Linked DNA regions of Homo sapiens. The protein of the gene in region 2 purifies or fractionates together with the protein of the main gene of each other region. This does not show direct contact. Each region holds a gene or a part of one and is shown on either strand. Other genes may lie near its edges.

The links. Proteins that work in one complex are often made in the same cells at the same time.
Region 1: the proteins of XYLB (region 2) and RPE fractionate together in Homo sapiens (co-fractionation; one large-scale study listed by BioGRID). This does not show direct contact.

What each region holds. Positions count from the first base shown.
Region 1 is NC_000002.12:210,015,115-210,019,637, reverse strand, and holds part of RPE (ribulose-phosphate 3-epimerase), read right to left. Parts: intron 3,666-4,523; coding exon 3,526-3,665; intron 3,435-3,525; coding exon of another isoform or gene 3,381-3,434; intron 3,132-3,380; coding exon 2,997-3,131; intron 2,166-2,996; coding exon 2,079-2,165; intron 1,849-2,078; coding exon of another isoform or gene 1,751-1,848; intron 1,486-1,750; coding exon of another isoform or gene 1,420-1,485; exon of another isoform or gene 1,417-1,419; intron 1-1,416. UniProt on the Homo sapiens protein: Catalyzes the reversible epimerization of D-ribulose 5-phosphate to D-xylulose 5-phosphate.
Region 2 is NC_000003.12:38,373,325-38,378,870, reverse strand, and holds part of XYLB (xylulose kinase), read right to left. Parts: intron 4,410-5,546; coding exon 4,369-4,409; intron 3,728-4,368; coding exon 3,612-3,727; intron 2,755-3,611; coding exon 2,639-2,754; exon of another isoform or gene 2,605-2,638; intron 1,954-2,604; coding exon 1,880-1,953; intron 1-1,879. UniProt on the Homo sapiens protein: Phosphorylates D-xylulose to produce D-xylulose 5-phosphate, a molecule that may play an important role in the regulation of glucose metabolism and lipogenesis.

The DNA of each region.
Region 1 (4,523 bases), on a different chromosome or scaffold from region 2:
AAAGGAAAATGTAGAAAAACCTAAAACAGAATTCCTGGACTAGAGTGTCTACCCTTGCATCTGTCAACATTTCAATCATATGAGAGCCACTTTGAGATTAAGCAGACTTAAGCAATCTAGTTCAATAAGAAAAATTTAAAATGTTCACAGATGAGGATGTCAGACTATTTTTAAATGTGTCTAAGAAATCATTGACCTTTCTGGTAAACCAACTCTTAATAATCTACATGGTATCTTTGCGACCTTTAGATAAGGTTTAAAAGCCTTTACTCCTCAAGTCCACTAAGGTTTTTCCCAATATGCACCAATGCCTCTACAGTTACTAAAAAAACACTTTTATTCTTTGAATTATATTTATATGAATTTGTGAGTGTGAAAGGACAATTATTGCTAAAAATGTAAAATTATCCATAAACTACGGCAAAATTAAGTGAGTTCTCGTTTTTGTGTCAAAAAATAGAATGTCTCTTTATACTTCATTGCATTTCAGAATGGTTTTGAAGTGGCTTTAAAAAAGTTTTTAAGATACATTTAAATATGGAAGCAAAGAAATTGAAAAAGAAAAGCTAAAAAATTGGGTCCAAATTTAACTCTGATCTTCCTAGGATCTGATTCAAGGATGGAAACCCAATCTGTTTTGTGATTCATTGCTAGAACAAAGAGGGAGAAGTGGGAGAACCACAGGCTGAGGAAAATTTTTCCAGACAGATAGTGTCACTTCATGTATGACAACATTTCTAACAATATTCCTCACAGAAATTATAAAGGTGAGTTTTATAGGGTTAACACTGCAAATATTCTCTTCAGTTAACCCATTTATGCCTAGTGTTCCATTATTGGAACGCTAAGCTTGTGGGAGTTCTTCATATCCTGCTGTTTAAGGTCATCGCCAAGGTCTGATTTTTCACACAAAAAATTTGCTACCTCTGGCATAAAAGCAGGAATAGTATACTGGCAAAGCACAGTTTAGTACAAAGCAATTCCACAAGCGATCAAAAGGATATGAGCTCACTCATCATCTGGCCAGCCCCTCCTGCATAAGTATTTACTACTGTCAAGCTTTTGATAGGTATATATCAAGCAGAAACGTGTGGCAGTTATACAAGAACCTGGAAGTAGATACATCACACTGTGGAAGAAAAGCAGTCATGTAAGCTTTAATCACTTGCAGTGCTACCAGAAGGGCTGGCATCCTCAGGAGCCTGACTATGCTAGACTAGCTATCTGAAAAAAAAAAAAAAGTAAAAAAAAGTTTTTACTTCTATACAGATAGCCAAAGAGGTATCAGGCCTAGATTTTCATCAAAAATGGTTCTAGCAAGTTCTTACAAGGAACAACTAAATAATATGTAGGTTCTAAAGAATAATGTAATAATTAGGTCAATTAGATTTATCTATTTTCCCCCCTTGGTAGTACCTTTTAATTCCGTATTTTGGAAAAATTTCTCACTTCCAAGGCCGTGAAACTTAATGATCTTCCAAAGGGCTGAAATTCAACATATTCTTTTATAAAAAAGAACTTTCTTCAGCCTTCCTGAGAAAACCAGGATTTACAATTTTAACAATTTATGTGATTTTAGAATATCCACTTACGGGCCAGACGCCATGGCTCACATCTGTAATCCCAACACTTTGGGAGGCCGAGGCAGGCAGGTCACTTGAGGTCAGGAGTTTGAGACCAGCCTGGCCAACATAGTGAAACCCTGTCTCTACTAAAAATAAAAAAATTAGCCAAGCATGGTGGCAGGTACCTGTAATCCCAGCTACTCAGGAGGCTGAGGCAGGAGAATCGCTTGAACCCGGCAGGCAGAGATTGCAGTGAGCAGAGATCACGCCACTGCACTCCAATCTGGGCCACAAAGAGAGACTGTCTCAGAAAAAGAAAAAAAAAAAAAAAAAAAAAAAGCATATCCACTTATGGCTGTTTATTTTCCTAGTTGTACATGTGAACAAAAAATACTTTTCCAAGAAAGAAAGTCAACTTAGGAACCACAGAGGGAATCGCTGGCCCATGAGACAATGTCCTGGAGACATATTTGACGGGAAATTGGTCTAGTCATAGTTGAAGAGCAATCTCACCTCTGCACATTTATGGACAGTGTCAGGACCTACTCCACCATCGACCTCTATATCCAAAGATGGGAACTGGGTCCTCAACCAGTGAACCTAGATATATACATGAGGAAATAAGTAACTCCTAAAGTGGGTATGTTGGTGGGGGTGGGGGTGGGGGACAATCAAACAAAAAAATCCAACAGCAAATATTAGCAATTAAAACTCCAATTGTCTCACACAATAACTATACCAATACAACATATTACTGGGGAACACTTGGTTTTTAATAGCAAGCTTTGTTCTATTTGGCAAACAGCAATCTGTATTGTCTTTGCAGAGACTGTCATGTAAACAAGACAGACAAATCCTCAATAGTCAATGACAACTTCCAAGAGATCTAAAAGTTAGAGATAATAGTTTCAAAAGGAAATTTCAAGACTTCCAGGCGTGGTTGGCTGCCACCTGTAATCCCAACACTTTGGCAGACCAAGGTGGGAGGACAGCTTAAGCCCAGGAGTTCAAGACCAGCCTGGGTACGTAGTGAGACCTCCTCTCTACTAAAATGTGTAAGAATTAGCCGGGCATGGTGGTATGCACCTGTAGTCCTAGCTACTCAGGGGGCCGAGGCAGGAGGATCTCTTGAGTCCAGGAGGTCAAGGCTGCAATGAACCCTAATTGAATTACTGCATTCCAGCCCAGGTGACAGAGCAAGACTTTGTCTCAAAGAAAGAGAAAATTTCAAGATAAAGATGTAATACTTCTCTGATTTCCAAATCAGAAATCTATTACAGCATTTATTATACTGTATTAGAATGATCTGTAAGCATCCCCATCTCCTCACCTTCAGAACAGGTTATGCCTAAATATACAAGCCTTTCAATAAATGCTTACTGAATGAACACACTGTAAAAGCCTCACCCCAAAATCAAATACTTCTTTTACCTTTGGCATCATATCTTCCATGAATTTCTGCCCTCCAAACCCCGGTTCCACTGTCATAACCAAGGCCATATCTATCTGATTAGCCCATGGTGCCAAATACTCAACTGAGGTTCCTGGTTTGATGGCAAGGCCAACCTGTAACAGACACAAATATGCTATATCACATTTACAATTACTTCTGTATTATATTATTGTGGCATAGCAGGCCCAGTAGAAATATCTGTTCTTATTTTTTAAAAGTTAACAAGACTATTAAATGTAAGTATTTTCAACAAGCAGTAGCTTTCAGAAAACTTTAGTGGAATACATAAATGCTATGTGACAAAGAAGTTAAATCCTGGCATCATAGCTGAAGAACAGCTGCTTAAGTAAGGTATTCTTTACCTGCAATGGGCCCTGACTGTGCCACTGCACTTCAGCCTGGGTGACAGAGCAAGACTGTATCAAAAAAAGAGAAAATTTCCTGTTTCCCGCAAATCTTCCCAACTGAGAGTGAATGTTACAAAACACTCTCATCACGATTTCTTACCTTCATCCCATTCTCCCGAATGTCTTTAATCAAAGCCCCTGGGTTCTCAGTAGCCTCGAGATGAAAGGTGTACTGATTGGCTCCTGCTACAGCCATTGGCTTTACCCACTGTTCTGGCTTGGACACCATCATGTGCATGTCTAGAAAGAAAAGACACTTCAAAATATTACTGAAAAATACCTGGCTCATGTTATTGGAAGCCAACCTGTATGTAGTTTTTGCCACTTCTGATAAGAACTCTTTGGCCATCACACAAATCATTATTTAAATAGTTCTAATTCAGTATAGGTAGTTTCCTCTTATTTTGAAGACAAGGATTTATTTAAATTCATTTACAAAAAACACTATTTTCCCACAAAAAGCATACAGTGCTGTATATAAAAAGTTAACATCTAAAAATCAGGAAATCTAGGTCCAGGTCCAGGAAATGCCACTCTAAAAAACTTAAAGAATAAGTCATACTATCCATGCAAACTAGTTTCCTCTAGGAAAAATTAAGTGATCCTTTTCATTTATTCTTTCAATTTATCGAGCTATTGCTGCATCATTAATTATTCTAGGTCCTAGGGTTAGAGCAAAAACATGAAACTCTCCTGTCATAGGGATTACATTCTTAATGCGAGAGTCAAACAATAAACAAAATAAGTAAGTAAAATGCACACTAGGTTGGCAGTTAATATGGCTGGTGTGCCTGGGGAAGGAGATACACCAGTCAGAGGTCAGGGAAGCATGTGGTGAGGAGAAACCCTTCAGCATTCTGCAGGCCACTGGGAAAAACCACCACAGTGAAGTGACAAGATACTATCGACTGAGGAAGCTACGATAGCAATAACCCAGGTGAAAAATGATGGCAGCAATTCGGGATGGATATGTTCTTAAATAAGAGCAAAGAGAGCTGAGGATAGATGAGATGTGGAGGATAAGAGGATCCTCCATGGATAGATAGATGAGAGGAAAATAAAGATGGCATCAAGGATTTTGACCTTATCAACTAGAAG
Region 2 (5,546 bases):
GCAATGATCAGATTAGACAACAGAGCCTGGAAAATGCAGTACATACTAGATAAGTGAGAGCCACGAGCTTACGCTGAGATCCCACCCCTGTGGCATGTCCTTCAAGCTAGCACTGATGGGCATCAACCCCAGGCTCACTCCTGCTTCTCTGGCACCTGAGACCAATGCTAGAACCTGCCGCCATCCCCCTCATAAACAGCTACACTCTAACCTTACTGACCTTCTTCTAGTTCCCAAGCTGCTCCCTCTGCCTGAAAGTCTATCCTACTCTTTCCATGGTGAGATCCTGAGTACTTTCAGGTCTCAACCTAAAGGCCACCTTCTCAGAGACGCCCAGGCTTGATCACCCCACCCAGGGTAAGTCTCCAACCCGCCCACCAGCTGCTTTCCTTTGCGGCACTCTGTTCTTCTGCAACCTAGCCTTAGCACCTGCTGCATTCATGTACATGCTCATTCAGTCGTCTACTGTCCCTCTCCCTCCTAGACAGCAGGCTCTGGGGAGCAAGGGCCACCAATGTTTTGTTCTCCTTTGTGTCCCCGGTGCCTGGCACCAATCATACATATCTGCTGGTTGAATGAATGAATGAAGAACACTACTTTCTCCTTGACAAATCTAGGATTGATATGCATGAAAGAGAACAGGCATAGCTTCTCACTCTAACAAAAGAAACCAAACTGATCCTCCATCAGAAGATTGAGATGAACTTCCTACTTTATACAAAGCTTTCCATTCATAATCCAACATGTAGTGCCATCATCTGCCACTGAATCCAACGCCAACTCTGACAGTTACAGTTTCCAGACAGAGTGTCTTACATAAACCCCCCATTTACTGGGGTCAGAAACATCTCTCAGGTACAACCCAAAATGTGGTGATGACTCTCCAGTGACTCTCCAGCAGCAATGTCAATTTTGAGGAGCAAGAACCAACTAAATCCTTCCCGAGAAAGGTCACATTGTGGAGGAGAAAGAAAACAGCAGCTTCAGAGCCAGAGAGGAATGGGTTTGAGCCCCCTCCACCATCTATGACCTTGTGACTCTGGGCAGATTATTTAGCCTGAGCCTCTGAGTCTCAACCTCTCCATCTAGAAAGAGGAACAATAGTGCCTATTGCTTTGAAAAGTAAATGATAGCCGGGCATGGTGGCTCAAACCTGTAATCCCAGCATTTTGGGAGGGGGCGTATCACTTGAGGTTAGGAGTTCGAGACCAGCCTGGCCAACATGGAGAAACCCCTATCTACTAAAAATACAAAAATTAGCCAGGTGTGGTGGCTTGCATCTATAATCCCAGCTACTCAGGAGGCTGAGGCAGGAGGATCGTTTGAACCCACGAGGTGGGGGTTGCAGTGAGCCGAGATCGTCCCGCTGCACTCAAGCCTGGGCAACAGAGTGAGACTCCATCTCAAAAAATTAAAAAAAAAAAAAAAGAAAAGTAAATGAGGAAGGTATAGAAAACCATGAGCACAATGCCTGGCACCAAATGGGCTCAATAAACGTTAGTACCTCCTGGGCTCAGCAGCTCTTTCAACCAGGAGGAAATTCATGATCTCAAGATCCATGGGTTCTTGATGGGTATAGGATAAAACTCGCCAAGGAAATAAGTTCTGTGATACACAATGATAGTGTTAGCATTTGTTAAATAGGAAGAGAACTCTCAGGTTTTCTGCATTCCTCCCTGAGGGAAAGGACCGTGTCTGTCTTAGGTCCTGCAGATTCCCCAGGATCTAGAATGCACCCTGGCACACCACAAGTGTGTATGATATTAATGGATGAGTGAATGAATGAAGTCCCTAAAAGTAACATAATTTGATAGGCAATTGTTAAATTTTACACTCACAAATGGAGCCAATGTAACTCCAACACCAACAGCACATGTACCTTGTGGTTTTCTGTGTTAAACCTATGACGTCCAATAATTTCAGGGGTGATCTCCATTACATCAAAATAAAAACCTGAAATAAAACCAGGAAGAGATCAGCCGTCATTAGTCAAAAAACAAAAGATCAGCTTCTTAACAGACTTAGAACAGGACAAAATGACCCCATATCCCTGGGTCCCCTGGCTCTTTCATCCCCCAGATGAGACCTGTGAATATTCTCAGTTCCTTCTCTCCAACAGGATAGAAGGGAACCAGGGAGCCCTGAGCTAGCTTTTCTCAAAGACAACTCTTCCTGCTCTCACTTGGCAGCCTGGAATAGGAAGCAGCTGCCCAGCCAATCCTAAAATATCAAAACAGGTTTGACCAAGGGAGGCACAGACCCTCCCTGCTCAGGCCTGCCCAGACACTGGGGACTTTTCCTTGTGCCTGGGGCAGAGGCTGTGAACGGGGATGCACCAGGGTAGAGGCTGCCCTCTCTGATGCTGTCACCAGGGGCTTGGTGGGGACAGAAGACATAGCTATGGCCTGATGTTCTGCTCAGAGCAGAAGCCAAGGACAGCCTTACAGCCCCACCCTTGCTCAGAACACAGGGTTCCACACCAGCTTGTAGGATGTGTGGAATATAAGTGCAGACAGACAGGACTCCCCTGGACTTCTCCACGGCCCTCCTCTCCCCCAGCTCATGGGGCCCCAGGCTCTGCCCCTCCAGTCGGCAGCTGCTGACCCTTCACAGGCCTGGGCACCACCAACTGGCCTACCCAGGTTTCCACCGTTGCCCATCTCTGTGGACTGCAGTGCCTTAGAGAAATCGCTCCAGGAACGGGATACAGACTCGTTGCGGATCTTCTCTCTCATGAGGGAGCCATTTTTAAAGCTGCAGAAGAGGGCATAGCTCTGAGGGAGGGAGCTGGTGCTTGCTGACTGGACCCATGAGTTTCAGTGAAGAGACTCAGGCAGAGGAACTGCAGGTCAGGCTGGACCACGACCCCTAGTCAGTGCACAGCAGGCTTTGAAACTTAGGTATCGGAGGCTCTTCCTCAGATTCAGGCCCCTGAATGTCCCTGGGAGGTGCCGGAAACGCCCTTGTCTTGGGCTGTTTACACAGGAGGCTGACACAGAGGAGCCCCAGGTAGAGACAGGGAGCTTGGGTTTCTGCACATTCTACCATGGGCACAATGAGGCAGGGAGGGCTAGATTAACTAGCCACATTCTCCAATGGTTCTTAGGGCTTAGGAGCTCAGAAACCATTTCCCTCAGGAGCTTTGGACAGGTCTCCAAAGGCCTGTGGTCAGAGCACAGAGCATGTCCCTTCCATGAGAGCCGTCGGGAGGCAGGATGTCCTTCCCGCCATTTGCTGAGGGTCCACCACATGCCAGACGGGTCACAGTAACAATGTGAGGTAAATGCTCTTACCCTCCCCATCTCATGAGGAAAGTGTGGCTCAGACATGCCACACTACAGAGTTTGCCCAAGGTCACACAGGATATAGCTGGTGAGGATAGAATTTGAACCTGGGCTTGAAGGACACAGGGTCTTGGGTTATTCCCCACCCAGCTCTGCTGTCAGCAAGAGCTGGTGAGTCCTTGGGGGTCTCAGTTGCCCAGCAGAGCCCGGGAAAGTGGAGGGAGTCATTCCAGAGCTTAGTGGAATGACTTGGGGTCCTCAAGATGGTGCCAGACCTGCCCACACCTCCTCACCCAGGGAATGGTGCCAACCAACACCCAAGCTCACCACAGGAGTGCCATGTAGTGCTGGGAGTCAACCGGGTTGCAGAAGATGTGGCCTTCCAGGGCAGGCATGGGCTCTTGGAGCCAGAGAAACAGGGTGTCACTGGTGCCCAGGCTGACCTGAGGAGAGATAGGCAGAGGTGGGCACCTTGGGCTTTGCCCACACACGCTGCCCTCTGCCAGCGACGCGCTGTACTCCACCCACCTTAACCCTGTCACTTCACTCATGCTGCAGACCTCAGATGCAAGGCCACTTTCTAAGAGCCACTTCTGACCCTCCCATACCAGATGAGCCAGGAGTTAGCTCCCCAGATGCAGATCTCATGGATCTTCTGTGCTGATTTCCCACAACTGCATCTAAATAATGGTTTGGGTGATGGCTGGTTCCCCATATGACTTTCCCACTAGAAGTAGGAATGTCTGGGTTATGTCTTCCTTATTCATCTGCGCTGCTCACAGCCCTTTGGCCCCACATCTGACCCTCTGCCACTGCATGCACTAAGACTGGCCACTGTGAAGCAGGCAGGGGTCCTGCCCATCTAGCAAAGAACAATGACTTTCTGAGAAAGATGTGCGCCCCCATCCCCTCCCTCCACTGTCTTTTGGAACCGGCAGACACTCTGATAAGTAGCAGAGATCCTGCTGGGACCCAGACCCTGGGACCCTGGGATCTGGGTCTCAGCAGCACCTCTGCTACTTATCAGAGTGTGGGTGTGAGTGTGGAAACAGAAAGAGCCTATGGGTGTGGGAAGTCGCCTTACCGCAATGTCACCTTCCTCCAGTCTCATGCCTGCCAGCGACGCTGAGAATGGGAGGGGAGCTTCTGGTTAGCTGGCGGCCACATGGGAACCACAAAGCAAACCACAGGGCTCTCCAGGCAGGCGCAGAGCCCCCACCTCCAACCCCCACCCACACCCTAGGGTGGAGGCAGGAGCAGGGGAGCTGAGCGCTCAGGAGGCCCTAAGAGGAGAAGGTCATAGGGGTCACGGGGTGAAGTCTCTGTTAGCAGGGCCGCTGATTTGAGCTGTGAAGTCTCTTCCCTGAAGGGGTCCAAACATCCCTCCACTGTCAGGCACTTCCGAGAGTGCAGAGAATCAAGGAGGCCAAGACAAGACACCAAGGATATACAGCAAAGAAAGACAAAGGCAGTAATGGAAAAGAAGGGGGTGAGGTTATGTTCACTCTCTGTGCCCTGCCTTAGACACAAAGCCCACAACAGCAATCTTTTTTTTTTTTAAGAGATATATAGGTGGGGTCTCACTCTGTCACCCAGGCTGGAGTGCAGTGGCATGATCATAGCTCACGGCAGCCTAGAACTCCGGGATCACGCAATCCTCCCACCTCAGCCTCCCAAGTAGCTAAGACTACAGGTGCACACTACCACACATGGCTCACAACAGCAATCTTTATCTGCCTTGATTGCTGAAGGGCCCCAGCACTGAAGGAAGGCCTGGCACATAATAGGCACTCACTAAATGCTGAGTGAATCAACATGTGAATAAAGGTGAAATGGGAGTGAGGAACAGGTGCACTCAAACACTGCCACTGAGGTTCAATCAGCAGTGTGTGTGTCAGAAGCCTTGGATCTAGGAATCCCACCTTTGAGAACTTATCCTATAACAACAAAGAGACGAGACCGAATGTGAATCTCAACATCGTCTGCACTGCCCAAACACTGAAGCAACACCACCCTCCATCCATCAGGGACCAGTGAAATAAATGCTGGGACAACTGAGCTCTAGACAACTGTTAAAATGAGAAAGATACTGCCCAGGTTGATTAAAAGAAACAATGCTTATTTATGAGCACAGAAAGAAGACTGAAAGGACAGAAATTAATCTTTCTGATTAAGGTTAAAATTAACCTTTCTAGTTACTGTTAAATGTAACCCTAATCTGGTGGATCGTTAGAAAAAGACTTACTTTTCCTGGGGTGGGGG